Linked DNA regions of Homo sapiens. The protein of the gene in region 1 purifies or fractionates together with the protein of each later gene. This does not show direct contact. Each region holds a gene or a part of one and is shown on either strand. Other genes may lie near its edges.

Evidence for each region.
Region 2: the proteins of BMX (region 1) and PDCD2L purify together in Homo sapiens (affinity purification with mass spectrometry; 3 studies listed by BioGRID and IntAct, with this or other methods). This does not show direct contact.
Region 3: the proteins of BMX (region 1) and ARIH2 purify together in Homo sapiens (affinity purification with mass spectrometry; 2 studies listed by BioGRID and IntAct, with this or other methods). This does not show direct contact.
Region 4: the proteins of BMX (region 1) and USP24 purify together in Homo sapiens (affinity purification with mass spectrometry; 3 studies listed by BioGRID and IntAct, with this or other methods). This does not show direct contact.

What each region holds. Positions count from the first base shown.
Region 1 is NC_000023.11:15,496,607-15,503,816, reverse strand, and holds the start of BMX (cytoplasmic tyrosine-protein kinase BMX), read right to left. Parts: upstream 3,011-7,210; 5' UTR 2,877-3,010; intron 1-2,876. UniProt on the Homo sapiens protein: Non-receptor tyrosine kinase that plays central but diverse modulatory roles in various signaling processes involved in the regulation of actin reorganization, cell migration, cell proliferation and survival, cell adhesion, and apoptosis.
Region 2 is NC_000019.10:34,407,375-34,414,400, forward strand, and holds part of PDCD2L (programmed cell death protein 2-like), read left to right. Parts: intron 1-1,786; coding exon 1,787-2,136; intron 2,137-6,362; coding exon 6,363-6,473; intron 6,474-7,026. UniProt on the Homo sapiens protein: Over-expression suppresses AP1, CREB, NFAT, and NF-kB transcriptional activation, and delays cell cycle progression at S phase.
Region 3 is NC_000003.12:48,921,835-48,928,860, reverse strand, and holds part of ARIH2 (E3 ubiquitin-protein ligase ARIH2), read right to left. Parts: intron 6,513-7,026; exon of another isoform or gene 6,393-6,512; intron 6,114-6,392; 5' UTR 6,050-6,113; intron 4,144-6,049; exon of another isoform or gene 1,400-4,143; 5' UTR 1,303-1,399; coding exon 1,048-1,302; coding exon of another isoform or gene 1,006-1,047; exon of another isoform or gene 190-1,005; intron 1-189.
Region 4 is NC_000001.11:55,093,339-55,100,364, reverse strand, and holds part of USP24 (ubiquitin carboxyl-terminal hydrolase 24), read left to right. Parts: intron 1-495; coding exon 496-594; intron 595-1,806; coding exon 1,807-1,889; intron 1,890-2,280; coding exon 2,281-2,422; intron 2,423-2,647; coding exon 2,648-2,767; intron 2,768-3,192; coding exon 3,193-3,413; intron 3,414-3,742; coding exon 3,743-3,867; intron 3,868-4,968; coding exon 4,969-5,110; intron 5,111-6,277; coding exon 6,278-6,428; intron 6,429-7,026. UniProt on the Homo sapiens protein: Ubiquitin-specific protease that regulates cell survival in various contexts through modulating the protein stability of some of its substrates including DDB2, MCL1 or TP53.

The DNA.
Region 1 (7,210 bases):
TAAATTGCCCAGGTCACACTGCTAGTGGGTGGAGCTAGATTTGAATCCCGGCAGTCTAACTCCACATCCCATATTCGTGACCACGCTACTAATGCTAGAGAAGGACATGCCTGCTGTGTGACCCTCCTAAACCAGAGACTGCTCTAACCTAAATACAGGAAGGCAGTCATAGGATGTCAAATCTTATAAGAAACCTAGAAGTCATTTTACAGATGTAACACTGAGCCCCAGCAGCCTAAGTGACTTAGCCAGTACTGTTAACCAGTGACCTAAGAGGCATGGCCCTGGGAGCCAGCTTCAGGTGTCATACCTGTACACCATCCACTCCATGATGGCAGTAAACAGAGTAGGAGATATCTGTGTGTTCAGCCAAACATACTACAGCTTTGCTAAGGGACATAGTTTGGTGAAACTACCCATAAATCTGAGTCTTAACAGACCAGTGCAAGAGACATTTTATTGGAAATATCAGAAAGATGTTACCTATAATCTTTCGATAGGAATCTCCTGCTGAAAGGCAGTGTTAAATAGCAAAATTTGAAACCACATTCTGAAAATAGGTAAGAACATACAACCTCAAAAGTTGGAATAAATTCTCAGTGGTACAGAAGGGGAGCAGGAAACAGGATACCAAGGGAGACAGGGTTATCTAGTTAAGTGGCCATTGGATAGTTCCCTCAACCAGGAAGTGTATTCCCTGACTGGCTCAGGGTGGTGTCTTTAAAGATTTATCTTTTAAAATTCAGAGATAAGGATAGCAATTCCTTACCCTTTGACTTGGTTTAGTTATCCTCTCTTACTTTACATGCCATATAGCTAAAGATTTTGTAGGTGTCAAGATGTTAAAATAATACATGTGGTGGGAGGGCAGTAGAGCAGGAAGGGTGGGAAAGAAAGGGAAGACGCTCCAAGTGGGGTGGGATCTGGAAGGGAAACTGGAGGGCCCTGTGACAAACTTGATCTTCAAATATTTGTCCAAATGCCAGGCCCGCTTATCTTCGTGCTAAATAACTGAACAAAATGTGATGGTAGGTTTAAACAAGAACAAAAAGTTTGACTGAGGATCAAGTAAAGTGGTTCAAAAAGTCTTAGGATGCTGGCCAAAGACAAATACTGGCTTCACAGAACCTGACAGATCCTTATTTCACATGATGTTATGCAGGAGAGGGAAAGTTAAAGTTGATCTTGGCATGATATGGACAGAAATCTTTTAACATTGACAGTCAAATTCTCAGCATCTTGGAGCATCATACCTTAATTGATCCAAAATAAGTGTATAAAAACCAGACACTTTGGGAAGATCATTTTCTCACAAAGAAGGCAAGAATCTTAATGCTAGTCTTTTTGGAGCTAAGTTTTGCTTTAGGTGTGAGATTAATCTTCAGTGCCCCATAGAGCTTTTCTAAGTCTTTTCTTCTTTTCAGTAACCTCTTTCTTTCTGCTCCCTCTCCTCTGCTTAGGGCACTCTCTCTGGGCAACTTCCTTAGGAGAAAAGCAAAAAGTAATAAATCCATGAGCTAGCATCTCATGCTGAATTAAACATGTAACACTGCTTTCATGATGCCGGTTAGTGCAAGTGAAAGCACCGAGCTGGGTTCGAATCCCTGCTCTGTCTCTATGGAATCTGTCATGTTACTTAACCCAGCTAAACCTCAGCTTCCCCATCTGTAAAGGCAGTGAAACAATAACCACTTCGAAGGGTTACAAGTAGTCAAGAGAAAATGGCAGCCTAATGCCCAACACCCTAGTAGATATTCTAAAAGCTTATGTCCCTTCTGATCACTCCATAGGCAAAGTTTTAAAAAGGACCATAAAAAGTTAAAAAACTAAAGACAGTGAAATAATAATGATCCTTAATGATAAAATTTTACTTCTCATCCCTCTGTCCCCAGCTCCTGGGTATAGGAGAAAATGGGAGGCAGGAAGACCTCCTCATGTATTGCCATGTCAACAAACACCAGTCCATACATAGTAGGTTTGTCGCAGACTTTCCATCCTGAGACGAGTTACCATAAAATGAGGTTGAACCATACCCTTATTGACTGTGTATTTGTGCCACCATATTTCCTACAAATAAATACTTGGATGTGACTCAAAGTGTGGTCCGTGCACTTGCATCATCCGGGCGATCATTAGACATGCAGACTCTCAGTTCCCACCCGAGACCTCGCGCAGCCAAATCTTCATTTTAGCAAGATCCCCAGGTGATCCACGTGCACAGGAAAGCTTGAGAAGCACTTACATGGACCACAAAGTTGCACTCCTTTTCAAATCCAATGAAATCATTGTGGCCCACAAAATCTTTCAAAATTATATGGATATGAGTACAACTGCATGGTTCACCTCCCTCCCACCTGTCTATCTCCATCTAAAATACACAAAGCACTTGATTTAGGGAGACCTCAGGAACCTAAGAGCAAATATTTGTAGCTAAAGTAACATCATAAAAACACAGTTAAAGAAGGTATAAGGAACATTTCTATGTCTCTTTGGAAGCAGTTATGAGGCCAATATGAAAGGCTATGGAAAGGCAATACCTAAAGAAGCGGATGGAGAAAATTAGCAGAGAATACACACAAAGCTAGGTAGAACTGGTGGTGATACATAAACAACCTGAGAGCTTCCCTAACTGAGATTTTGAGCAAGGAGTGAATTTACAGTGAAATTATAGCAGTTTCAGCCGTTGGCCTCCAAATTACCTGGTCCCATCTAAAGTCCCAGAGAAAGCCCTGGCAATTTCATATTAAAAATGTTGTACTATTTTTCTTAAAGTGAGCTTCCCAAAGTTTGTAACTTCAGGCCCCACAACACCGGGAACCAAACCTATTTTCCGCATAGTATGCGACACTGAGTAGCCACCTGCCGCTTAAACGCACCGTCTCAGCTTGTTCCGTGCTTGCCTGGGTCCGCCGCGGTGCTTGGTCTGCTGTTGCAGGAACACGGCCCCGGCTGTCCTGTTTCCAGAAGCAAATTGTTTCACATTTTCCTGGCTGCCGGGTCAGAAATGGCTACATTACTCAGTGCCCCCAACACGTTTATTGTCCTACAGAGCCTTACACAATCCCACAGGAAACCACGCTCAACACTTAGCCAACACTTGTTGATCTGATTGAACGCAACAAAAACGGAGACAAAAGCATACTTCATAAAGTTTCCAATTTTGATAACTATAGCTCCCACTTTTCCCAGGCAGCTCTCGGGTACATGTGATAACCCTGCCTTTGTTTGTAGAGCTCTATGCTGGAAAGGACAAGAAAATATCTCGGCAAAACCCGACTGCTGACGCTGACTTCTCTCACATGAGCCAGGAAACCATTAGGTAATGCAAAGTGCACAGAGAATATGCAATGAAAACTTCAACTCAACATTTGGACAAAGGAAGGCCAGAGAATATGTAAGAACAGTTCATATGATGGAAAAGGAGCTTATTTATATAGTTTAAGTTATTAAGAAATCCAGAAATGGAAAATAGATTGTTTTTGCTAAGGTATGGTACACCTAGATCGCAATGAAAAAGTGTGTCACTTGACATCATTATGACAGACTCACAACTTTTGGCTTCCCCCATTCCACTATTTTCTCTGGTGCATACCGGCTGGCCATCTGTAATAAATCTAAGGACATATTTTATGTCCTGCTATGGATAGCCAAGAAAAGTAATCATCCTTTTGGCATGCATTGACACACTGTGTTTACTTATAAATTGTTGCTTACTGTAACTTATTTGTAAGTATCTATGATGTGAAGAAGTCTTGGGTTGGCAGAAGAGAGTGAAGCTACTGGCTTTCAAAGAGGTATTCTTTTGAGTGTACATGGAATTAGCATCATTTCTATTAATTCGTTCAGTCAAGTCTTATTTGAGAACCTGCCATGTGCTGAGCATTCCGTTAGGGGTTGGAGACACAAGAGCAAACAGAAGAGAGGCAGCCCACATCTTCAAGGGGCTTATGTGTCTGTGTGGGGGGGGGGGGAACCACAAATAGTGGTTTAATTACAGTAGAGTATGGGAAAAATAACTTGCAGAAATATTTTTTAATATTTCAGTTTGGAAACTAGAATTTTGGGAAGGGAAAGGAGTCCTTCAGAAGAATTCAAAAGAGTGTAACTTACATTCTAATAGCAAATTAAAGTCACTGATGGATTCCAAATAGCTCTCCATTCTTTAGGAATATAGTAGGTAGTCATTCAAAAAATTAAGGGTGAAGCAGGGCAAGAGTGGCACAACAACCTGGCTAAATAAATTAATTCTACACTCTGCTAGTTAATTTCCTTTTCCACATGGCGATTTGTATTTACTTCACAACTTATATATGGTAATATGGCAAAAGTTCGATTCTAGAATAAAAAGTAAACTTAGGGTAGGGGAAGGAGGAGTTGGTGATATGGTTTGGCTGTGTCCTCACCCAAATCTCATCTTGAATTGTAGTTCCCATAATCCCCACATGTTGTGGGAGGGACCTAGTGGGAGGTAATTGAATCACGGGAGTGGATGTTTTTACCGTGCTGTCCTCATGACAGTGAATAAGTCTCACCAGATCTGATGGTTTTATAAAGGGCAGTTCCCCTGCACACGCACTCTTGCTTGCCACCAGGTAAGACATGCCTTTGTTCCTCTTTCACCTTCCACCATGATTGTGAGGCCTCCCCAGTCATATGGAACTGTGAGTCCATTAAACCTCTTTTCCTTTATAAATTACCCAGTCTTGAGTATTTCTTCATAGCAGTATGAAAATGGACTAATACAGTCGGTATAACTGTGGAAACACCTGGGCACAATCTCTTGGGATTTCCATCCCTTCTTGGGGGCATAAAACACCCAAGGACAGCTGGGAGGAGTGGTTTCCTCTAAGGCAAAATGTCACAGATTTATTTACTTTATTCTATTCATTCACTTCCTCTGCTACTTCTCCTGTTTCTTTGGCTCTGTATTTTCCATGAGTTTAGTTACATCCTAACTTTTGGCAATCTGCTATTACGATAATATGACTTCATTTACTCAAATTATACTCTGCATTGTCATCTTTACTCAGTTAGAATTTTAGGAATTTTCTCCTAAGCTTGTTCATGCAAGCCTTTAGCAGGCCACAGCTAAAGGGACATGGCATGGGATAATTTGACTTCATGATGTGAACAAGCCTGTTTACTTGTGCTTACATTTTTAAAATAAAAAAGAACCTGGTAGAATCCATTGTCAGAGAGAGAGAGAGAGAAAGGGGGAAGGAGAGAGAGAGAGAGAGAGGGAGAGAGAGAGAGAGAGAGAGAGAGAGAGAGAGAGAGAGAGGAAGAAAGAAAATGAGATAATCAGAGTCCTTCTGGCTTGTGGCTGACCTGTATTTTTCTCTCACTTTAGAAAATTCACTTGACTCATGGCTTTAAACACCATCTATATGCTTATGACAGCCAGGACCTCTTCCCTGAATTCCAAACTTATGTTTGACTGTCAACTTGTCCATCTGTACTTGGGATATCTGATATATATGTCAAAACTTGTCCAAAGCTGACCTCCTGATTCACACCCACCCCCCCACCCCCAAAACTAGTTTTTCCTACAGTCTTCCTCTTCTCAGCTAATAGGAACTCTCCCCCTCCAGTTGCTCTGGCTAAAGAATATGGAGTCATCCTTAATTTTTACCCTTCTCTTGCACCAAACGTTCAATCCTTCATGAAATAAGGTTAGCACTAGCCGCAAATGTACCCCCGTTTGGCCACTTTTCAATACCTCTACTGCCACCTACTGGTCTGAGTTGCCACCACCCCCAGGGGGAATATTGTACTAGTCTCCTGACTGTTCTCCTTCTTCCACTCTTGCCCCTGCAGTCTATTCTCCACTGAGTGGCCAGAGTGATTCTTTAAATGTAAGTCACATCTTAGCACTTCTCCAGTCTGAACTCTTCGCTTGTCCCCCCTGTTCTGGTCCCCTAGGACTGTCTCTAACATCATCACATGATTATTCTACTTCATCTTACCACTCCTGAAACTGGCATCTTTTCTACTCCTCCAATATTCTGAGCAACATCTGCTCCAGGGCCATTGCATTGGCAGTATCCTCTGCTTGGCAAACTGTCCCAGATATCTGACTGGCTCGTGTCCTCATTTCCAGGTTCTGCTTCTAATGGCATCTTCCTAATAGCCCTACGCAGACCACCCTGTTTAATATCACAGCCTCACCCTCCACCCAGCACTCCAATCTCCCTTACTCTGCTCTGTGTTTTCTTTCTTCTACAGGACTCATCACCTTATAGCATAATACATAATTTAATTATTTATTACCTTTATTATTTGTCTCTCCTCACTAAAGAGTAAGACCACAAGGGCTCCAACAGCTTATCTCTGCAGTTTGAACTTTGTTCATGGGTATCTCTTCTTTGGGGACGTCACTCCATTACCTCCTGCATGTATTCCTTCTGGTGCTAAAATAATCTGCTTGTAAGTTGGGATCAGATGTGAATTATTCACACTTACTAGAATTGAAGATTAACATGTCACCTCTCCTAAGGGTGCTTGCATATCAAACCTCAGGTTCAGTGCCGGAACAAACTGCCCTGTTTTTAATGAAAGGAAATGGGTGAGTAGGAGGTGGAGGTAGACACAAAAATGTTTGTTGTTTCCTTTTGTTATCAGCCATGTCCTGTCCTGTCACCCATGAAACCTTTACATAGACTGTTGGCATTTTGTCAATCTTACTCCTGTTTTTCTAGTCGGAGGTAAGTATTTGTGGTCTACATGGAGTTGGCGAACTATGAGCCCCATGAGTTTTTGTGAATAAAATTTATTGGAACACAGCCACTATTCCTGCCCCACGGCCTTTGCATTGATGGTATCCTCTACTTGGCAAACTGTCAAGTGTTGTCTATGTCTGCTTTCAGTCTACAACGGCAGAGTTGAATAGTTGAGACAGAGACTGTATGCTCACAAAGTCTCAAATACTTACTATCTGGCCTTCACAGAAATAAATCACCAACTCATACTCTGGAAGCATCCTGCCAGCTTTGGAAGTGATCTTGCAGCTTGGAATTTAGTTTAACAGCTCCATTCAACAGAGAGTCACTTCATTTACTGTGTACAAGGTGCTAGAGTTGGAAGCAAAGAAAGTAGACAAAGGGGTATAACATTTTGGAATCCTTCTAGTTCTGATTCCCACTGTGACTCAAATTATTTTTTTCCTAAGATTGTATCATGAAACATTTCAAAATATAGAAAAGTTAAAAAA
Region 2 (7,026 bases), on another chromosome or scaffold:
GTGATCCACCCGCCTTGGCTTCCTGAGGTGCTGGGATTACAGGCGTGAGCCACCACACCTGGCCACTCCAGATTTCTTTAACCACCACTCTACTCTCTACTTCTTTGAGGTTGTTTTAGATTCCACATATAAGTGAATACATGCAGCATTTGTCTTTGTGTCTGGCTTATTTCCCTTAGCAAAATGTTCTCCAGTTCCATCCATGTTGTCACAAATGACAGAATTTCCTTTTTTTTTTTAAGGGTGAAAAATATTCCATTGTATATATAGTAGTTTTTTTAAACTTACACTGAAGGTCTTGAGACACACAGTTTACTGATTTTCCTGTTTGGGAATATATATGGGTGTGTACATATATGTGGTTGTATGTGATAATGTATACGTGTCTTTATAGTAAATATACTTTATGAGAGCTATATATGTATTAACACATTTCATAAGATGAAATCTGAATTTATTGAAAAGGCAGGCAAGTTGGTAGCTGCAGAACACAATTTAGCCTCCCTTTGACTGTAAATGTGTCTTTATATATACACTGAGTTTGTTTGTTTGTTTGTTTGTTTTTTGAGATGGGGTTGCATTCTGGTCACCCAGGCTGGAGTGCAGTGGCATGATCTCTGCCTCTTGGGCCCAAGCCATTCTCCCACGTCAGCCTCCTGAGTAGATGGGATTACAGGCACGTGCCACCATGCCCAGCTGATTTTCATATTTTTTGTATAGATGGGATTTTGTCATGTTGCCCAGGCTGTTCTTGAACTCCTGGACTCAAACAGTCCGCCCACCTCAACCTCCCAAAATGCTGGGATTACAGGCGTGAGACACTGGGCCCGGCCTGCACCCAGTTCTTGATGTTTGCTAGGCATAGTATTAGCAGTACTTAAATAAAAAGTTGAAGACAGTGGTGTTTGCCTATATTTGTCAGGGTTCAGGTGCAGATAATTAGAAAAGTGCTGTTGCTTTTTCTTTTTTTTTTTGAGACCGAGTGTCGCTCTGTCACCCAGGCTGGAGTGCAGTGGTGTGATCTTGGCTCACTGCAACCTCCGCCTCCCGGGTTCAAGCGATTCTCCTGCCTCAGCCTCCTGAGTAGCTGGATTACGGGCACGTGCCACCATGCCTGGCTTTTAAGCTGAGACAGACTTAACACAGGAGTGAGGTTTTTAGTAAGTGGATAGGCTGAAGGAGGAGGCTCCAGGAATGCCCTCCAGAATCACACCTCAGAACTGGCCGTGAAGGAGCTGCTATGCCACCTCTCCTGCTGTCAGGAAGCTTAGGTGTGATCTGGTGAACTAGAGGCTGTCTTTGCCACCGAACCGTTGGCTCCAAAGCCTTGTTCTGTCTGTGTCTACACAATGGCTACCTTTTGCTATGTGGTCTTTCTTTCTACTTCACTCTGTCTCAAGTTCATGTTTCTCTCTAGTAGACCTGATTAGCAGACCCCTAATCATATCTGAAACCCTAGCTGCTAAGGGGTCTGGGAAAGGTAGTTCTTTCTTTTCAGTTCCTGCAATACATGAAGCACAACAGAAAGATATTGGAACGGATGGTTGAATAACCCCTGTACTATATCTGTCACACTCACCCCAAAAAGGAAAGACAAGTATTTTAAGTCACCTCCAACGTGCTTTTGAGTACATAGGGTCTAGAAAGTTTGATTGGAGTGTACCAGAGGGGAAGGGGATGGTGTGAAGGCTCCCTCTGGAAGGCGCGGCGGTGGGTGGCTGGAGCCGAAGGATTAGAATAAACCTCCCAAATGTGCTCGGACCTCATTCACTGAGTATTTTTCCAGAAACAGGGAAACAGCCTTGCAGCTGAGGACTGGTGTGAAGGTGCTGATGACTGGGGAAGTGATACTGAGGAGGGGCCTTCACCACAGTTTACCTTGGATTTTGGGAATGATGCCAGCAGTGCCAAAGACGTAGACTGGACTGCTCGGCTCCAAGACCTCCGCCTGCAGGATGCTGTCCTGGGTGCTGCCCATCCTGTGCCTCCTGGGCTGCCGCTCTTCCTGCCCTACTACATCTGTGTTGCAGATGAGGATGATTACAGGGACTTTGTCAACCTGGATCATGCCCACAGCCTTCTGAGGGACTATCAGCAGAGAGAAGGCATTGCCATGGATCAGTTGCTTTCCCAAAGGTGAGGATGTGTGCTGCTGAGGTTGAGAGGTGACTGGATTGGGAAGCAGCCACAAGAGTTACCCTTCAGTTTCACCACAGGACCTGGGGAAACTTTCAGGCAGAACTTGTATGTAGGACCTTTTTGCTTCACTTCCTTATCAGCCAACTTGAGTTAGCTTGAAAACCCTGCTCTATTTATAATTGCCGTTAAGAAAGTGAAGATGAACAAACAGAAGTTAGAGATGGCAAGTATTTATAGAAGACGCGTTCACTGACTCTTAAATTTTCTTTTATATTTCTAATATGTCTTTATAGCAGAGACAGGCAAGTTAGAAAACTACCATTTGATCTGGGATAATAAGATTGGGGTGAAAAAATGGAAAAAGGAAAAGAAAAACGCCATTTGTTTATTGACTCTTGGCTGTGGCTCCAGAACTGGCCCAGGACCTCAGAGATGCTTTCAGATCCTCAATTCTGTAAAATGAGAGTGATGGTGATATCTCTGTTCTCTGTTTCATCCCATGATTTTTTGAGAGTTAAGCGAGAGGGTAGATCTTGAAAGGCTTTATAAACCAAAGCTCTCTAAAGAGGTAAGAATGATCATTTTTGCTTATTGATTGACTGAGAGAGACAGGGTCTCACTCTGTCACCCACGCTGGAGTGAATTGGTGTGATCAAAGCTCATGCAGCCTTGAACTCCTGGGCTCAGGCAATCTATCTTAGTTTCCCAAGTAGCTGGGAGTACAGGTGCACACCACCATGTCTGACCAATTAAAATTTTTTGAGTTTCGCTGTTGTTACCCAGGCTGGAGTGCAATGGCACGATCTCGGCTCACTGCAACCTCCACCTCTCAGGTTTAAGCAGTTCTCCTACCTCAGCCTCCCAAGTAGCTGGGATTATAGCCATGTGCCACCATGCCCAGCTAATTTTTGTATTTTTAGTAGAGATGGGGTTTCACTATGTTGGTCAGGCTGGTCTCGAACTCCTGACCTCAGGTGATCCACCCACCTCAGCCTCCCAAAGTGCTGGGATTACAGGCGTGAGCCATTGTGCCTGGCCTAAAAATTTGTTTTAGCCACTGCACCCAGCATTTTTTACTATTAGAATAAAAAAATTACAATAGAATATTTGGAGAAATGGCCTGGTTCTTTACCAGAACTGTTTCATTTGTAGGCTTTTTCAGAATAATGATGAAGGGGAATGCATGAAGACATGTTGGTGTTTGAAAATAATCCTTAATAGAATTGATGGTTATAAGGACTTTTTATTTTTTATTTATTTATTTATTTATTTATTTATTTATTTTTGTGTGTGTGTGATATGGGCTCTCTTGCCAGGCTGGAGTGCAGTGGTGCGATCTCGGCTCACTGCAACCTCCCCTTCCTGGGTTCAAGCAATTTTCTTGCCTCAGCCTCCCAAGTAGCTGGGACTACAGGTGCGCGCCACCACACCCAGCTAATTTTTGTATTATTAGTAGAGACGGGGTTTCACCATGTTGACCAGGATAGTCTCAATCTCTTGACCTCGTGATCCACCTGCCTTGGCCTCCCAAAGTGCCGGGATTACAGGTGTGAGCCACCGCGCCCGGCAGGATTTTTTATTTTTTAATTTCTTAAGTTTTTATGTATTTGCTTATTTTTGGTGGGTTTCTTCAGACTAGAGTATTCTTCTTTTTTTTTTTTTTTTTTTTAGAGATGGGATCTTGCTTTGTTTCCCAGGCTGAACTGCAGTGGTGTGGTGTGGTTATGGCCTTTTTTTTTTTTTTTTGAGACAGTCTTGCTCTGTTGCCCAGGTTGGAGTGCAGTGGCACGTTCTCGGCTCACTGCAACCTCTCCCTCGCCGGCTTAAGCAGCTCTCATGTCTCAGCCTCCCGAGTAGCTGGGACCATAGGCGTGCGCCACTTCACCCAGCTAATTTTTGTATTTTCTTTTTAGTAGAGATGGGCTTTTGCCATACTGGCCGGGCTCTTCTTGGAGTTCTGGCCCCACGTGATCCGCCCACCTCGACCTCCCAAAGTGCCGGGATTACAGGTATTAGCCACCACGCCCAGCCTGCTCATGGTTTACTGCAGCCTCAAACTCCTGGCCTCAGGGGATCCTCTGGCCTCAGCTTTCCCCATAGCTGGGACTACAGGTGTGTGCCACCAAACTCAGCTAATTAAAAAAATTTTTGGTTTTTTTGAGACAGAGTCTCACTTTGTCACCCAGGCTGGAGTACAGCGGTGTGATAATGGCTCACTGCAACCTCCAGCTCCCAGTTTCAAATGATCCTCCTGCCTCAGCCTCCCAAGTAGCTGGGATTACAGGTACCCGCCACCACACCCGGTTAATTTTTGTATTTTTAGTAGAGATGGGGCTTCACCATGTTGGCCAGGCTGGTCTCAAACTCCTAACCTCAAGTGACCCACTCTCCTTGGCCTCCCAAAGTGCTGGGATTGCAGGCGTGAGCCACCGCACCCAGATGAAAAATACATATATATATATATATATATAAAATAAATAATAAAATATATATATTAAAAAATATATATGAAAATATATATATTTGAGACAGAATCTCGCTCTGTTGCCAGGCTGGAGTACAGTGGCTCAATCTCAGCTCATTGCAACCTCCACCTCCCAGGTTTAAGCAATTCTCCTCCCTTAGCCTCCTGAATAGCTAGGATTACAAGTGCATACCACCATGCCCAGCTAATTTTTGTATTTTTAGTAGAGACAGGGTTTCACCATGTTGGCCAGGATGGTCTCGATCTTTTGACCTCGTGATCCACCTGCCTCGGCCTTCCAAAGTGTTGAGATTACAGGTGTGAGCCACTGTGCCCTGCGACTTTTTAAATTGTAAATAATTACTCAAGAGTTGAAAATGGCTTGGGAGAAGGGTTGGGCAGGGAACTGCAGAGCTACATGTACACAATTTAAATATCAAAAATATTTACTTGACAGTTTTTGGCTGAGTGCGGTGGCTCACTCCTATAATTCCAGCACTTTGGGAGGCCGAGATGGATCACTTGAGGTCAGGAGTTGGAGACCAGCCTGGCCGACGTGGTGAAACCTTGTCTTTACTAAAAATACAAAAATTAGCTGGACGTGTTGGCGCACACTTGCAATCCCAGCTACTCAGGAGGCTGAGGCAGGAGAATTGCTTGAACCCAGGAGGTGGAGGTTGCAGTGAGCCAAGATTGCACCATTGCACTCCAGCCTGGGTGACAGAGGGAGACTCCCTCTCAAAAAAAAAAAAAAATTACTTGACAGTTTTACAGTTTTTTAACTTTGACAGTTTTTTTTTTTTTTTCTTTTTGAGACAGGGTCTCACACTGTTATCCAGGCTGTAGTGCAATGGTGTGCTCACGGCTCACCACAGCCTTGCCTCTGGAATAGCCGGGACCACAGGTGCATGCCACCATGCCCAGCTAATTTTTGTATTTTTTTGTAGAGACAAGGTTCTGCCAGATTGCCCAGGATGGTTTTGAACTCCTGAGCTCAAGTGATCCGCCTGCCTCGGCCTCCCAAAGTGCTGGGATTACAGGCGTGAGCCCACTGCACTGGCCTGAGAAATTTTTTTTTGAGACGGAGTTTCACTCTTCTTGCCCAGGCTGGAGTGCAATAGCGCAATCTTGGCTCACTGCAACCTCCATCTCCTGGGTTCAAGTGATTCTCCTGCCTCAGCCTCCCAAGGAGCTGGGATTACAGGCGCCCGCCACCACGCCTGGCTAATTTTTTGTACTTTTATTAGAGATGGGGTTTCAAGATGTTGGCCAGGCTGGTTTCAAGCTCCTGACCTCAGGTGATCTGCTCACCTCGGCCTCCCAAAGTGCTGGGATTAAAGGCGTGATTGATTTTTTTTTTTTTTTTTTTTTTGAGATGGAGTCTCATTCTGTCACCAGGCTGGAGTGTAGTGGCATGGCACGATCTCGGCTCACTGCAACTTCCGCTTCCCGGGTTCAAGCGATTTCCTCTGCCTCAGCCTGCTGAGTAGCTGGGACTATAGGCGCAAGCCACCATGCCCAGCCAATTTTTTGCATTTTTTAGTAGAGATGGGGTTTCACCATGTTGGCCAGGATGGTCTCGATCTCCTGACCTTGTGATCTGCCTGCCTCGGCCTCCCAAAGTGCTGAGATTACAGGCGTGAGCCACTGCGCCTGCCCTGATAAAATTTTTTAAAAGAAAATTATCTTGTTTTGTCTTGCAAATGCTGTAATTTTCTGGATATAGACATTCAAAAGTGTTTTCTGCTTCTGTTTTTAGCCTTCCTAATGATGGTGATGAAAAATATGAGAAGACCATAATTAAAAGTGGAGATCAGACGTTTTACAAATTCATGAAGCGAATTGCTGCTTGTCAGGAGCAGATTTTGAGGTAAAAAAAGGCACAGTTCCTTTTATTGTTTTCCTTGATTATAAAGGAATACATATTAGTTTGGAAAACACAGGAAAATATGAGAAAAGCAAAACCTACAGTATTCCCCAAACCAAGAGAGAACCTAATACCTGCTTTATAGGACCTAATACCTACTTTATAGGATGTGTAGGAGGATTCAGTAAGGTAAAGTGCACTCACTTGTCTAACAAATACTTACGAAGTCTATTCTGCATGCCAGTTGCTGGTATTTGTAGGTGCTGCAGATATAGCAAGAAACGGCACAGATGAAGTCCATGTTCTCATAGCCTTTATTATTATTATTATTTAATTTTTTTTTTTCTTTGAGAGGGAGTCGCGCTCTGTCGCCCAGGCTGGAGTGTAGTGGCGTGATCTTGGCTCAATGCAACCTCCACCTCTTGGGTTTAAGCCATTCTCCTGCCTCAGCCTCCCAAGTAGCTGGGATTACAGGTGCCCGCCACCCTGCCCAGCTGATTTTTTTGTATTTTAGTAGAGATGGGGTTTCACCATGTTGGCCAGACTGGTCTCGAAC
Region 3 (7,026 bases), on another chromosome or scaffold:
CTTCTAGAAATTAGTCACACAAAAAAAAAAACAACTTAGCTTTCAGCTTCCAGCCAGTTGCTAATAAAGACCTGAGTATCTAAATTCAAGGTATTAGCCTTTGCCAACCATCTGGGGAAAAAAAAAAAAATCCCTAAACTAGTAGATAAAGCAAATTTTATAGAAATCATACAAGGCACACCTTAGTTATTTCTGTTTAAGTTCCAATAAAATTTATTTGGTTGACATCATGCCAAGGTGCCCTTTTGACCTCCAATTTAATCAGAAACAAAATCCAAGTAACAATTCATGAAAAAAGATTAGTGAAAACACTAAAGAGAAATATTTCCAATTTCCCATAATGGCCAGTGTTAGAGAAGGAAACATGCTTGTTGGGAAACTGTCAAAATGATCATAAAAAATGTAAATAGGATAATAACTGGCCTAAGGTACAAGACATCCAAAGGTATGTTTTAGCTTATGTGTTAAATAAAATGCTTGCTGATGGGGTAATCAACTTTGTTCATTCTTTACAATTTCCATACTAACACCCCCTAAATCAATGAAATACAAGCATAAGAAAGAATTATTATTAAAATCAGTACATGAAACAAATGAGCTCATTAGCCCAAAGGCAATGACTATTCAGGGCAAACCAGAGGGATCTGTATACTCTCAAGACATTTATCAGTCACTCACAGTCGTACAGAAGATGGTGATTCTGATGCTTATTGTATCAACCTCATAAAATTCTGAAAACTCACTTCCTGAAACGTGCAAAGTTGTGCAATTCTGCTACTACACATTTCTGGTATGGTACATCTTTCTTGAATCTGTCCCACCCCTACTTTCTAATTCTTACTAATTTGGGAATCTGAGGACCTTAGACATGCATATATTAGAAAACAAAGTAAATGTAACAAAATGTCCAAATGATGTTGACATACACTTAAATTTGGTTTCAAGCTACAAGGCCATTCAATTAGTCTGGAGGAGACATTAATTAACAACAGCTCATCCTTAGATTTAACTGGGGGGGATTACACTGGAGTTTACAACACTGCTCACCTTTAGGACAGAAGCTAAGCTGGTCATGTGCTCATTGAGGGCACCCTCAGATTCCTTGTAGGTCAAGCAAGTGAACTGGTACTCCTCGGGATCAAAGGCATCAGCCCCCTGCTGCTCCACATCGCTGGCTACTCCCACGTAATAGTCCTCTATGTCCCCAGGGTCGTCTTCTTCTTCTTCTTCCTCTTCCTCACAATTTGGGTCATAGTCCTCTTCATTGCTGTCAGACCCCTGGCTATTCATGTCCACTGACATCTTAGCATCCAGCCAAGTTGCAGATCAGGAAAGCAGTTGCTTTTTCCCCCTCCCCCCAAAACTACCGCTTTCTCAAATGCATTAGTATTTTTGTCTTCTAAGGGAGGAAAAAAAAAATAAGTGTTACTTTTTCCCCATGACAAGTTGTAACAGAAACCATTCAAGAATCAAAATGGGACAGTCCTGGCCCTAATCTCACTACAGCCTATTCCAACTCTGGTATCACATGGGGAATCTTACTATCATCCCCCTGGCCCAGGCTTATAAAAGGGAAATCCTTCCCTGGAGAGACAGAAGCAGCTAATAAATGGTAACTTCACATGAAAGGCCTGGCATGACAGGGCAAGGCTGTCTGCTCTATGTCAGAAAGTCAAATTCCAATGAACTTGTTATTCTTGCCAAAGTCCTTAAGGGAGAAGCACATCCCCACAGCTGGCAGCCCAGAGGGGAGGCAACATAAAGGTTTAACTACCAAAGTTTAAAATTTTGCTTATCATGCCCCGTTAGTATTGATACAGACAGTACATAAATAGGAACACTTCCTGCTGTAATATGTAGAAAAAGAAAACCACTGTTTCACAGACATTACTTTTAGGTGTCTGAAAAATAGGTGCATAGTTGGTAAAGAAAAAAAAAACACACATAGGTGTTCAACATCCTCCTCTAGTCTGCAAAGTTGACTGATTTTTCAGGTTTAAAGAGTTCTACTGGCCGGGTGTGGTGACTCATGCCTGTAATCCCAGCACTGTGGGAGGCTAAGGTGGGTGGATCACTTGAGGTCAGGAGTTCAAGACCAGACTGGCCAACATGGCGAAACCCCATCTCTACTAAAAATACAAAATTAGCCAGGTGTGGTGATATGCACCTGTAATCCCAGCTACTCGGGACGCTGAGGCAGGAGAATCACTTTAACCCGGGAGGCAGAGTTTACAGTGAGCCAAGATTGCGCCACTGCACTCTAGCCTGGATGACAAGAGTGAAACTCCATTGGCCGGGTGCGGTGGCTCACGCCTGTAATCCCAGAATTTTGAGAGGCTGAGATGGGTGGGTCACCTGAGGTCAGGAGTTCGAGACCAGCCTGGCTAATATGGTGAAACCCTGTCTCTACTAAAAATACAAAAAAATTAAGCAGGCGTGGTGACAGGCACCTGTAATCCCAGCTACTTGGGAGGCTAAGACAGGAGAAACGCTTGAACCCAGGAGGCGGAGGTTATAGTGAGCTGAGATTGCGCCACTGCACTCCAGCCTGGGCAATAAAAGCGAAACTCCGTCACACACACACGTACACACATACACACACACACACACACACACACGAGGGAAACTCCATCTCAAAAAAGAAAAGCCCGCAAACAGCGAAATGTTACTTAATTACATATAAACGAAAAGAGAATACTAGTTGAGAAAGTGAAACAGTCACAAACCCTAACTTCAACTCACAGAAGATTGTGGCAAACACCCATTAACTTTTCTACACAACTACCATTTCAACTGATGAGCTGAAAGGAACAATATCAACTAGCGATTTAAATCTAAAACTAGGCCAGGTGCGGTGGCTCACGCCTGTAATCCCAGCACTTTGGGAAGCCAAGGCGGGTGGATCACGAGGTCAGGAGATCAAGAGCATCCTGGCCAACGTGGTGAAACCCCATCTCTACTAAAAATACAAAAATTAGCTATACGTGGTGGTGCGTGCGTGTAATCCCCAGCTACTCAGGTGGCTGAGGCAGGAGAATCACTTGAACGAGGGAGTCGGAGGTTGCAGTGAGCCGAGATCCCGCCACTGTACTGCAGCCTGGCAACAGAGTGAGACTCCATCTCAAAAAAAAAAAAAAAATCTAAAACTAATAGAACCTTAAAGTGTAAGAGCATTTGGATTTAACAGTACATAAACAATTTATATAAACAAATCTTGATTAAATACAAAAGCAAATATAAAGTCTACTTGAAGTAGGTAATCTGTCTGAAAAAAAACAACCAACCATAATCTAAAACAAAGACTGAGGGTGTGGCTCACAACTATAATCCCAGAACTTTGGAAGGCTGAGATGAGAGGATCCCTTGAGGCCAGGAGGTCAAGATCCACCTGAACAACCTAGTGAGACCATGTCTCTACAACACATTTAAAAAAAAAAAAAAAGAAATCAGCTGGGCGCGGTGGCTCATGCCTGTAATCCCAGCACTTTGGGAGGCCGAGGCAGGTGGATCACGAGGTCGGGAGATCGAGACCATCCTGGCTAACATGGTGAAACCCCGTCTCTACTAAAAATACAAAAAATTAGCCGGGCATAGTGGCAGGCGCCTGCAGTCCCAACTACTGGGGAGGCTGAGGCAGGAGAATGGTGTGAACCCGGGAGGCGGAGCTTGCAGTGAGCCGAGATCGCGCCACTGCACTCCAGGCTGGGCGACAGAGCGAGACTCCGTCTCAAAAAAAAAAAAAGAAAAAAAGAAAAAAAATCCCGGCACTTTGGGAGACCAAGGTGGCCAGATCACCTGAGGCCAGGAGATTGAGGCCAGCCTAGCCAACATGGCAAAATCCCATCTCTACTAAAAATACAAAAATTAGGCTGGGCGCAGTGGCTCACACCTGTAATCCCAGCACTTTGGGAGGCCGAGGCAGGCAGATCACGAGGTCAGGAGATCCAGACCATCCTGGCTAACACGTGAAACCCCATCTCTACTAACAATACAAAAATTAGCTAGGCATGATGGCATGCACCTGTAATCCCAGCTACTCAGGAGGCTGAGGCAGGAGAACTGCTTGAACTCGGGAGACGGAGGTTGCAGTGAGCAGAGATTGCACCACTGCACTCCAGCCTGGGCAACAGAGCGAGACTCAATCTGAAAAAATAAAAAAATAAAAAATAAAAAATAAATTAGCTTGGCAGGGTGGTGCACACTTGCAATCCCAGCTACTTGGGAGGCTGAGGCAGGAGAATCACTTGAACCAGGGAGGAGGTTGCAGTGAGCCAAGATCATGCCACTGCACTCCAACCTGGGCAAGAGTGAGACACTGTCACACACACAAAAAATAAACAAATAAATAAAATAAGACAGGCATAGCGGTCATGCGTCTGTAGTCCTGGCTACATCGAAGAACTGCTTGGGCCTGGAAGGTCAAGGCTGCAGTGAGATCGTGCCACTGCACTCCAGCCTAGGCAACAGAGAGATTCTGTCTCCAAAAATAATAATAATAATAATAATAATTCAGGTAAATAATCTTCTACTTAAAAAAAAAAGGCCCACGTACAGTGGCTCACATCTGTATCAGTGGCTCACGCCTGTATCATAATCCCCACACTTTGGGAGGCTGAGGCTGGAGGATCATTCAAAACCAGGAGTTCCAAACCAGCCTGGGTAACATAGTGACACTCACGTCTACCAAAAGGAAAAAGAATTTGTAACCAGTCTAAAAGACTATGGAGTACTGAGACATAGTATCACTCTGTCACCCAGTCTGAGATATAAAAACATGATCATGGCCCACTGCAGCTTCCAACTCCTGAGCTCAACAGATCCTCCTGCCTCAGCCTCCTGAGTAACTGGGACTACAGGCATATGCCACCCCCATACCTAATTTTATTTTTTGTATAAACAGGGTTTTACTATGTTGCTCAGGCTGGTTTCAAACTCCTGGCCTCAAGCGATCCTCCTGCGTTGGCCTTACAAAACGCTGGGATTATAGGCAAGAGCCACTGTGCCCAGCCTACAGTCACATTTTTATATAATAAAAATATTGGCGAGGCGCGGTGGCTCACACCTGTAATCCCAGCACTTTGGGAGGCCGAGGCGGGTGGATCACCTAAGGTCGGGGGTTCAAGGCCAGCCTGACCAACATGGAGAAACCCCGTCTCTACTAAAAACACAAAATTAGCTGGGCGTGGTGGCACATGCCTGTAATCCCAGCTACTCAGGAGGTTGAAGCAGGAGAATGGATTGAACCCCGGAGGCAAAGACTGCAGTGAGACAAGATTGCATCATTACACTCCAACCTGGGCAACAAGAGGGAAACTCTATCTTAAAAAAAAAAAAAAACACTCACTATATCTAAGTTGATATGTTAACTATAAATGCTCCCATTTCTAAAAATTAAAAAAAAAACCCTATTAATTGTGGGGCAATAAAAATAATGTTTGCAGTCTGACCTTTTTTTTTTTTTGAGACAGAGTCTCACTCTGTCACCCTGGCTGGAATGCAGTGGCACGATCTCAGCTCACTGCAACCTCTGCCTTCCGGGTTCAAGCAATTCTCCTGCCTCAGTCTCTCAGTAGCTGGGATTACAAGCACATGCCACAATGCCCAGCTAATTTTTTTTGTATTTTTAATAGAGATAAGGTTTCTTTTTTTTTTTTGAGACGGAGTCTCGCTCTGTCGCCCAGGCTGGAGTGCAGTGGCGGGATCTCGGCTCACTGCAAGCTCTGCCTCCCGGGTTCACGCCATTCTCCTGCCTCAGCCTCCCAAGTAGCTGGGACTACAGGCGCCCGCCACTACGCCCGGCTAATTTTTTGTATTTTCAGTAGAGACGGGGTTTCACCGTTTTAGCCGGGATGGTCTCGATCTCCTGACCTCGTGATCCGCCCACCTCAGCCTCCCAAAGTGCTGGGATTACAGATGCAAGCCACTGTGCCTGGCCAGCAGTTTGACTTTTAACAAACTCTTCTGTATGGTAGAGCCACATAATCACAACTAAACTTAACGATGGTGTTTTTTCTTTAGGAGAAAAAGTTAATCTTTAAATTAAAGATACCTGTAATTCTTGGAGATCTCTCAGGCAGATGTCACCCAAGTATTCTACATAATATGATTTCCATCTAAAATGAAAAGAATTATATTTATATTTTTAAAGCTGGTATACTGCTTTTGCAAGTTTATTTTTTTTTTAAAGCAAAGGTATTTTAAAGGACAAGTAACAAGGGACAGAGTAACTATTAAATTAATTATCTTCTTTTAAAGTGCCAACAAAAAAAATCCATGACATAATTATATTGACAAGAGTTACATGACCTTCTAAAAAAAGAAAGTATTCAGCTGGGTGTTGTGGCTCACGCCTGTAATCCCAGCACTTTGGGAGGCCAAGGCAGGTGGATCACCTGAGGTCAGGAGTTCGAGCACCTGTAATCCCAGCTACTCGGAAGGCTGAGGCAGGAGAATCACTCCAACCAGGGAGGCAGAGGTTGCAGTGAGGTGAGATCGCGCCACTGCACTTGAGCCTGGGTGACAAGAAAATTCGTCTCAAAAAAAAAAAAAAGAAAGTAATCTAAGTAAACAGGTAGCAATAATTTAATCTCAATTCTCTCTCTCAGTTTGAAAGACCACTTCTTTTTTTTGTTTGTTTGAGACAGGGCCTCCCTCTGTCACCCAGGTTGGAGTGCAGTGTTGCCATCTCAGCTCACTGTAACCTCCACCTCACCCAGCTGAAAGCCTGCTTCTTTACTCCAGTATTTCTGTCCTTCAGATTCTCAACTACCACAATTTCAATCCTAAATGTTATGTAGATGTTGACCAAGCAAATTGTAACTGACTTAAAATTTAACTTTTACTACAAAATCACCTCCACTGTGGTAATCTAACACAGAATAATGCTAATATTTCAGATCTCACTTTACTCATGCTGTCGTGGCTCATTTATGTCACATTACTCATAAATGTCGTGGTGGTGCATGCCTGTAGTCCCAGCTACTTGGGAGGCTGAGGTGGGAGGATTTCTTGAGCACAGGAGGTTGA
Region 4 (7,026 bases), on another chromosome or scaffold:
ACCCCCATGCCCGGCTAATTTTGTGTTTTCAGTAGAGATGGGGTTTCTCCGTGTTGGTCAGGCTAGTCTTGAACTCCCGACCTCAGGTGATCCGCCTGCCTCGGCCTCCCAGAGTGCTGGGATTACAGGCGTGAGACACCACATCCGGCCAAGAATACTATTTTTAAACATTGCTTTACTGTGTTTCACATATTGGAGGATCACCTTGTGTTTTTCCCCATAGGTTGATTTGTTTCTAAGAGAGAAATTCTCTGTTCCATGGCCTAGATCTTACCCAGTACCCACTTTTGATTTCAGAGACTTGTTATGATTGTAAGGGGACTAGAAAAAAGGGTGGATGGCTGAATACAAGCTAGTCTCACTTCACTAGAAATGTCCACATCCTAATAGTGAACCTGATTTTTATAAGCATTTAAGTGCTCTTTCATGTTCCCTTTCTACCACATTCAGAAATTGCTACTTTTCCTTTAAAAACATTTAATTTTTGTTATATAGATTTTCAAGATGTGGAATAAAGAACTTTATGTGAGAGAACAGCAGGATGCATATGAATTCTTTACTAGTCTCATTGATCAGATGGATGAATACCTCAAGGTAGTAAAAGTTGTACTTTCCCTCTAACTCCCTCAAACTCTAATTATAGTATGAGAATAGTGTCTTAGCATTTGGGGTTACTATGAAACTGACGAATCAGAAATTGATTATCTTTAACATAAGAACTATAATGTATTCTGTGTTTAAACATCAAAACATAACACAGATCAATAGAATTGTATATTTTCTCTTTTTTTTCTTTTCTTTTTTTTTGAGACAGAGTCTCGCTCTGTCACCCAGAGTGGAGTGCAGTGGCACAATCTCAGCTCACTGCAACCTCTACCTTCCAGGTACAAGAGATTCTTGCACCTCAGCCTCCCGAGTAGCTGGGATCACAGGTGTGCACCACCACGCCCGGCTAATTTTTGTACTTTTTGGCAGAGATTGGGTTTCGCCATGTTGGCCAGGCTGGTCTCAAACTCCTGGCCTCCAGAGATTCACCCACCTCAGCCTCCCAAAGTGCTGGGATTACAGGCTTGAGGTACCATGCCTGGCCTAGAATTGCATATTTTCTTAATTCATCTAACGCTCAGTAAAGTATGTAACTCTTAATCTCTACTACATAGTAATAACCATTCCTACCTACATATTCTTTCTGTGTGTCTACTGAAATAATCTGGCCTCAGAAGAGTGCTGCAGTCACTGGTGAGCTGATGGCCCTGTGCAGAGCAGAGAGTGCTCTGGCACAGGGGAGAAAGGAGCCAGATTAAAAAGTTATTCGTGGTGCTGTTGAAACCCAAAGCTCTCTACCTCTACCCTGTAAGCCATGTGGCAGACTTCCTAAACGGTATTGCCTTCTCAGATCCCGCTGTCACTGCCAGCATTGGCCTCTCATCAGTAGGCACAATTCTTCCATTTTTTAAAGTAACTTGCAAATTGATGGCATTCTATCCACAAGAAAAAAGAAAAGATTGCTGAGAGTTGCCCCTAACTTGGTCCTTGTAGCACAGGGAGAAGGATTCAGAATCACCCTGGAGAACACTCTCTTGTCATTAGCTCTACCTGACCCATCCCTCCTCCTCTTCCTCTTCTGATCGTCTGCATCACTCTGACAGTGGGGCCAATAATGGGTTTAGCCTCCATTCACCACAGCTGATACTACCAGAATGACGCGTTTTGTTTTGGTCCTTAAATTGCAATGTGTTAATAAAATTCTGTATACTCATAAGTTCAGGAGGCATCACTTAAAACTGTAACTTTTCATTCCAACAGAAAATGGGGAGAGACCAAATTTTTAAGAATACATTTCAGGGCATCTACTCTGATCAGAAGATCTGTAAAGACTGTCCTCACAGGTGAGTGAAGATATCACCGACACAGGAAAAATGATCATCCTTTTGAAGTGATTTGTTTAGTATGTTGTAAATTTTGCATTTGTTAAGAGACTTAGAACTCTCTCCCTGTCAACAGATCTATAAGTATTTAGTGACTTAAATTTCTTTGCTTTCTACTTCCAGAAGGAGAAAAAATTTCTTTGTGGGCTTAAGAAAATATTCATTGAAATTCATAATTTTAGGCAATTCTTAATTGTCACAAAGTGGCATTTTAACTTAGTAATGGACTTTTAAAATATTGAGGGACTCCCAGATTAAAAATGTAGTTCTGTGTTCAAGCTTAGGTATTATGATAATTGAAGAGTTTTAAATTCCATTGTTGATTGTGGGTTTTCTGTTATTTCCTAATCAGATATGAGCGTGAAGAAGCTTTCATGGCTCTCAATCTAGGAGTGACTTCTTGTCAGAGTTTGGAAATTTCTTTGGACCAATTTGTTAGAGGAGAAGTTCTAGAAGGAAGTAATGCGTACTACTGTGAAAAGTGTAAAGAAAAGGTATTATGTTTGCCCTTTTTAAAAAACAAGATTAATTTGTTATTCGCATAGTGCGTCTTTGTTTTATGTAAAATCAGTATTAAGCTCCTACTGTTATTTCCATTAGATTGTGTCATTACTTGTTTTCACATGGATCAGAAAGGCCTTTGCATTAATTACTGTGCTGTTTTATTTTCTCCATGGAGATCATTCAGATTTGCTCTTTTTCCTTTTTTTTTTCTTTAGAGAATAACAGTGAAAAGGACCTGTATTAAATCTTTACCTAGCGTCTTGGTAATTCACCTAATGAGATTTGGGTTTGACTGGGAAAGCGGACGCTCCATTAAATATGATGAACAAATAAGGGTAACTTTTTTTCTTCCTGAAATTTTTCACAACCATTCATTTCCTCACTCACTTCTTTTTTTTTCCTTTTTCAATTTTCATATTCTGTCTACCATGTTAAGGCTGTTGTCTCAGCATTATGAAGAGCCCCTTATCTTAGGCAGCTGCTGTTACCGGAATAGGCAGATCTGGAAACAGTGGCCCTCATTTCTAGAAGGCATCCTAGTGATTACTATGAAGGAAAATGCCTTCCTTAGGGCTCAAACCAGAGGCTACTTTAGACGTTCCCAGACTTAACATTTCTGAGATTTTATACTTGAACTGGTGAGGTAGTTGTTCCTAGCTTAAACTAGGAAAACACTTCCTCTTATTTGGATCTCACTTAACTGGGTACTGCTGTATATGTTAGTAATCAACGTTAATATGGTCTTTTTGCTTCTACATAGTTTCCCTGGATGCTAAACATGGAGCCTTACACAGTTTCAGGAATGGCTCGCCAAGATTCTTCTTCTGAAGTTGGGGAAAATGGGCGAAGTGTGGATCAGGGCGGTGGAGGATCCCCACGAAAAAAGGTTGCCCTCACAGAAAACTATGAACTTGTCGGTGTCATCGTACACAGTGGGCAGGCACACGCAGGCCACTACTATTCCTTCATTAAGGACAGGCGGTAAGAGTTTCCTGAGGCAGCACTTACTCACTTTCTGCCCTCCCCTGCTCTCCGTTATCATCCATACTCACCGCTGTGGTGCAGGGACACTTTGGCATTGTTCTTGACTGTGTTTCATTTTGAAGTTTTAAAGCTTCGTGCAACTGGTTTTACCCCTTCAATTTGAAAAGTTGTTTTAGAAATTGAAATAATTGTTGCTACATATTTCTTAGATATTTTCAAATGGTAAACACCTGCTTTATTTGTAGACAATACATTGAGATCAATGCTAAGGATGAGGAGGTTGATTTTTTTAACCTTATAATGTTTGTCTGATCTCTGGGTTCTAGAGGGTGTGGAAAAGGAAAGTGGTATAAATTTAATGACACAGTTATAGAAGAATTTGACCTAAATGACGAGACCCTGGAGTATGAATGCTTTGGAGGAGAATATAGACCAAAAGTTTATGATCAAAGTAAGTATTTACAAATGGATATTTTCCATTAGTTTTTTTATTTATCGTTTTCTATAAAAATTAATAGTATTCTTTATATAAAAACACAACAGATTTTGTTATTTTTATTGTACTACTGTTCTAGCAATAGAACCATGAGCAAGCTCTTTAATAACCAAAGTGAAAATGTTCAAGCTGTTTATAAAAATTTTTTTAAATAATTTCTTACAACAACCTTGAGGGATAGGTAGGGGAGCTGGGAGTAAGTTAAAAGGATGAAATGAGCATCAGAGAGAAAGTAATGAATACTGAAATTGAACCTTAAAAATAGTTTTGGAAGTAGTTATCCATTAAAATTTTCAGATTTCCTTTTCACTTATGTAGAGGTGTGACTAATTAGAGAAGACATTTCTAGCACCTGTGTTTTTAAAACCATATTTATTATGCAGTGTGGCAAAGCAGTCTTTCCCTCTACAATCCCCACTCCCAGGAAAAAAGAGTATGAGGAGAAGTACAGCCCAATCAGAACTTGCTATTTGATAAAAAGCTATTTGGTGGAGACCTTAGCATTTCAGAAACCTGATTTTGAAATCTTCTAGTGGTATTTCTAAATTTTTAGCTGTATTGGATTCACTGTATTAGATTTTGATACCATGCCATTATAGTTAAGCATCTTATGGTGGTAACCTTTAAGAGTTGGATATAGTATTGTCAGAATTTGCCTGGATTTGGCCGATCTTGGCAGAAATGGTTAAGTGAGGCCAGTTATCCCATCTTGTGCCACAGAACATATTTTTAAATGTCACTTGCTATTTGCTTACATTTAGACCTCCCTAGGATACTTACCTTCTTTCTCTTACTCCATTACCATACTGCTCCCTTATTCCTTGTCCCCACCTATATCACTTCCAAGTGAGAGATCCAGCTAGGCCCACAACTGAAGTATCCTGACTTCCATGCTAAGCAGTACTCTAAAGACACTCACATTTTACTTATACTTTGCATTTTACAAACTTAGGGAGTAGTTAACTACTTGCTGGAATAATGGGCCCTTTGTTTTAGATTGTCAAGACAAGAAAAACTTTTATTTACAGATGTGTTTCTTAATGTCTTGTTATAAAGCAAACCCATACACTGATGTGCGCCGAAGATACTGGAATGCCTATATGCTTTTCTACCAAAGGGTGTCTGATCAGAACTCCCCAGTATTACCAAAGAAAAGTCGAGTCAGCGTTGTACGGCAGGAAGCTGAGGATCTCTCTCTGTAAGTGTCTCTTCCATGTAATTTGCTGTGTGATTTCTATGGTGATGATGTGGTCTGTGACAATATACTATTTGAGATTTTAAAGATAATTAGCTAAGCTGGAGAGAAATTCTAAAAAGAATTCCAAAAAGAAAATAAATCCCTTATTGCTTCATGGTTATTTTCTTGGCAAGAAGTTGTTACATATTTAGAAACATGCACGTAAGTTATTTCATTCTAGAATTGAAGTGTTTTGTTTTTTGTTTTTTTGAGACAGTGTGGTCTCACTCTGTCACCCAGGCTGGAGTGCAGTGGCATGATCATAGCTCACTGCAGCCTCGACCTCCCAGGCTGAAGCGATCCTTCCACCTCAGCCTCTTGAATAGCTGGGACCACAGGCGAGGGGCACCAGGCCCAGATATTTGGTTTGTCTGTTTTTTGTAAAGATAAGGTCTCCCAATGTTGCCCAGGCTGGTCTGGAACTCCTGGGCTCAAGCAATACTCCCATCTAGGCCTCCCAAAGTGCTGGGATTATAGGCATAAGTCACCATACCTGGACTTTTTTTTTTTTTTTTTTTTAATGTTAGCAGCATTTGTTGAATACACTTTTTGTCCAAAGCATAATGCTATGCCAACACTGTCAGAATGTTGTTGTTTTTTAAAGGTCCTATTGTCAGTGAATTTGCCTTTTAATATATTGGGTCAGGAAAGTGTTTACTTTTTCATGTGAGAAATATGACTATATGTGTTTTATTAAATTTGAAAACTTGGTTCAATACTTTGTTCTTACACGACTTTGAGTGTGTGGCTCTAAGATAAGTTTATTTCACTGCTTTTTTAATGGCTGGGAAAGATATCTCACAATAATATGAAGGAAGAATTCATTTTGTGCTTAAATGTTAAATCTCATATGCCACTTAAGTAAAAATTTGTGTTAAATTTGCCCTGCACTATTTTATCTTCTATAATGTCAATCAGTTCTCCCAACTAATTAGAAAGTATTGCATTTTTAATTTCTTAATTGTTACATTATGATTGTATATATTTATGTGGTACAGTTTTATGTTTCGATACATGTATAATAATCAAATAGTCTAATACCCGTTTATGTGAATTTGGCAAGTCTTAGTAACTACTGAAAAAATAGCCACTTTATACTAGACAGAGTTTTCTGATTCTATCTCTTAGGTCAGCTCCATCTTCACCAGAAATTTCACCTCAGTCATCCCCTCGGCCCCATAGGCCGAACAATGACCGGCTGTCTATTCTTACCAAGCTGGTTAAAAAAGGCGAGAAGAAAGGACTGTTTGTGGAGAAAATGCCTGCTCGAATATACCAGGTAAGAACCATATAAAAAATTCTAAGGGGGAATATCCACGTGGACATCAAAATGTATCTAGTAGGTCCAGAAGTACTTCTGCTGGATTAGTTGTACCACTGGGGCTACATCGTCTTACACACTTGTCTCATGAACCTTTTATGCCACGACACAGAGGGGGCCATAGAGCTAGAGCCATGGAGTGCTAAGAACACAAGTATGAATACACACTCATGATTGGCAGGCACAATCACTGACCTGCTCTGTGAGTGTGAAATGTCACAAATAAACAGAGTTGTGGGGAGTGGGCAGTAAAGAAATCGTGTTGCTGAAATAAACTTATTTTGTCTGGAGAGAAAAACAAGTTAAGGTTCATAACCTTTGAGTGGGACTAATAAAACAATCATTGGCCATTATTTATTGAACACCTACTGTGTGCTACGTGCTTTAAGCACATCTTTAATTTGTAAAAGATTATTATGCAGTATCAGGTTTTATTCTCATTTTTTGGATGGAAAAACAGGTTCAGAAAAGAAGAAGTATGTGCCAGTGTCACAGGACAAGGATCTAAATTCAGAACTGTCTACTCAGTCCAGACTTTATACACTAATTAATCAAA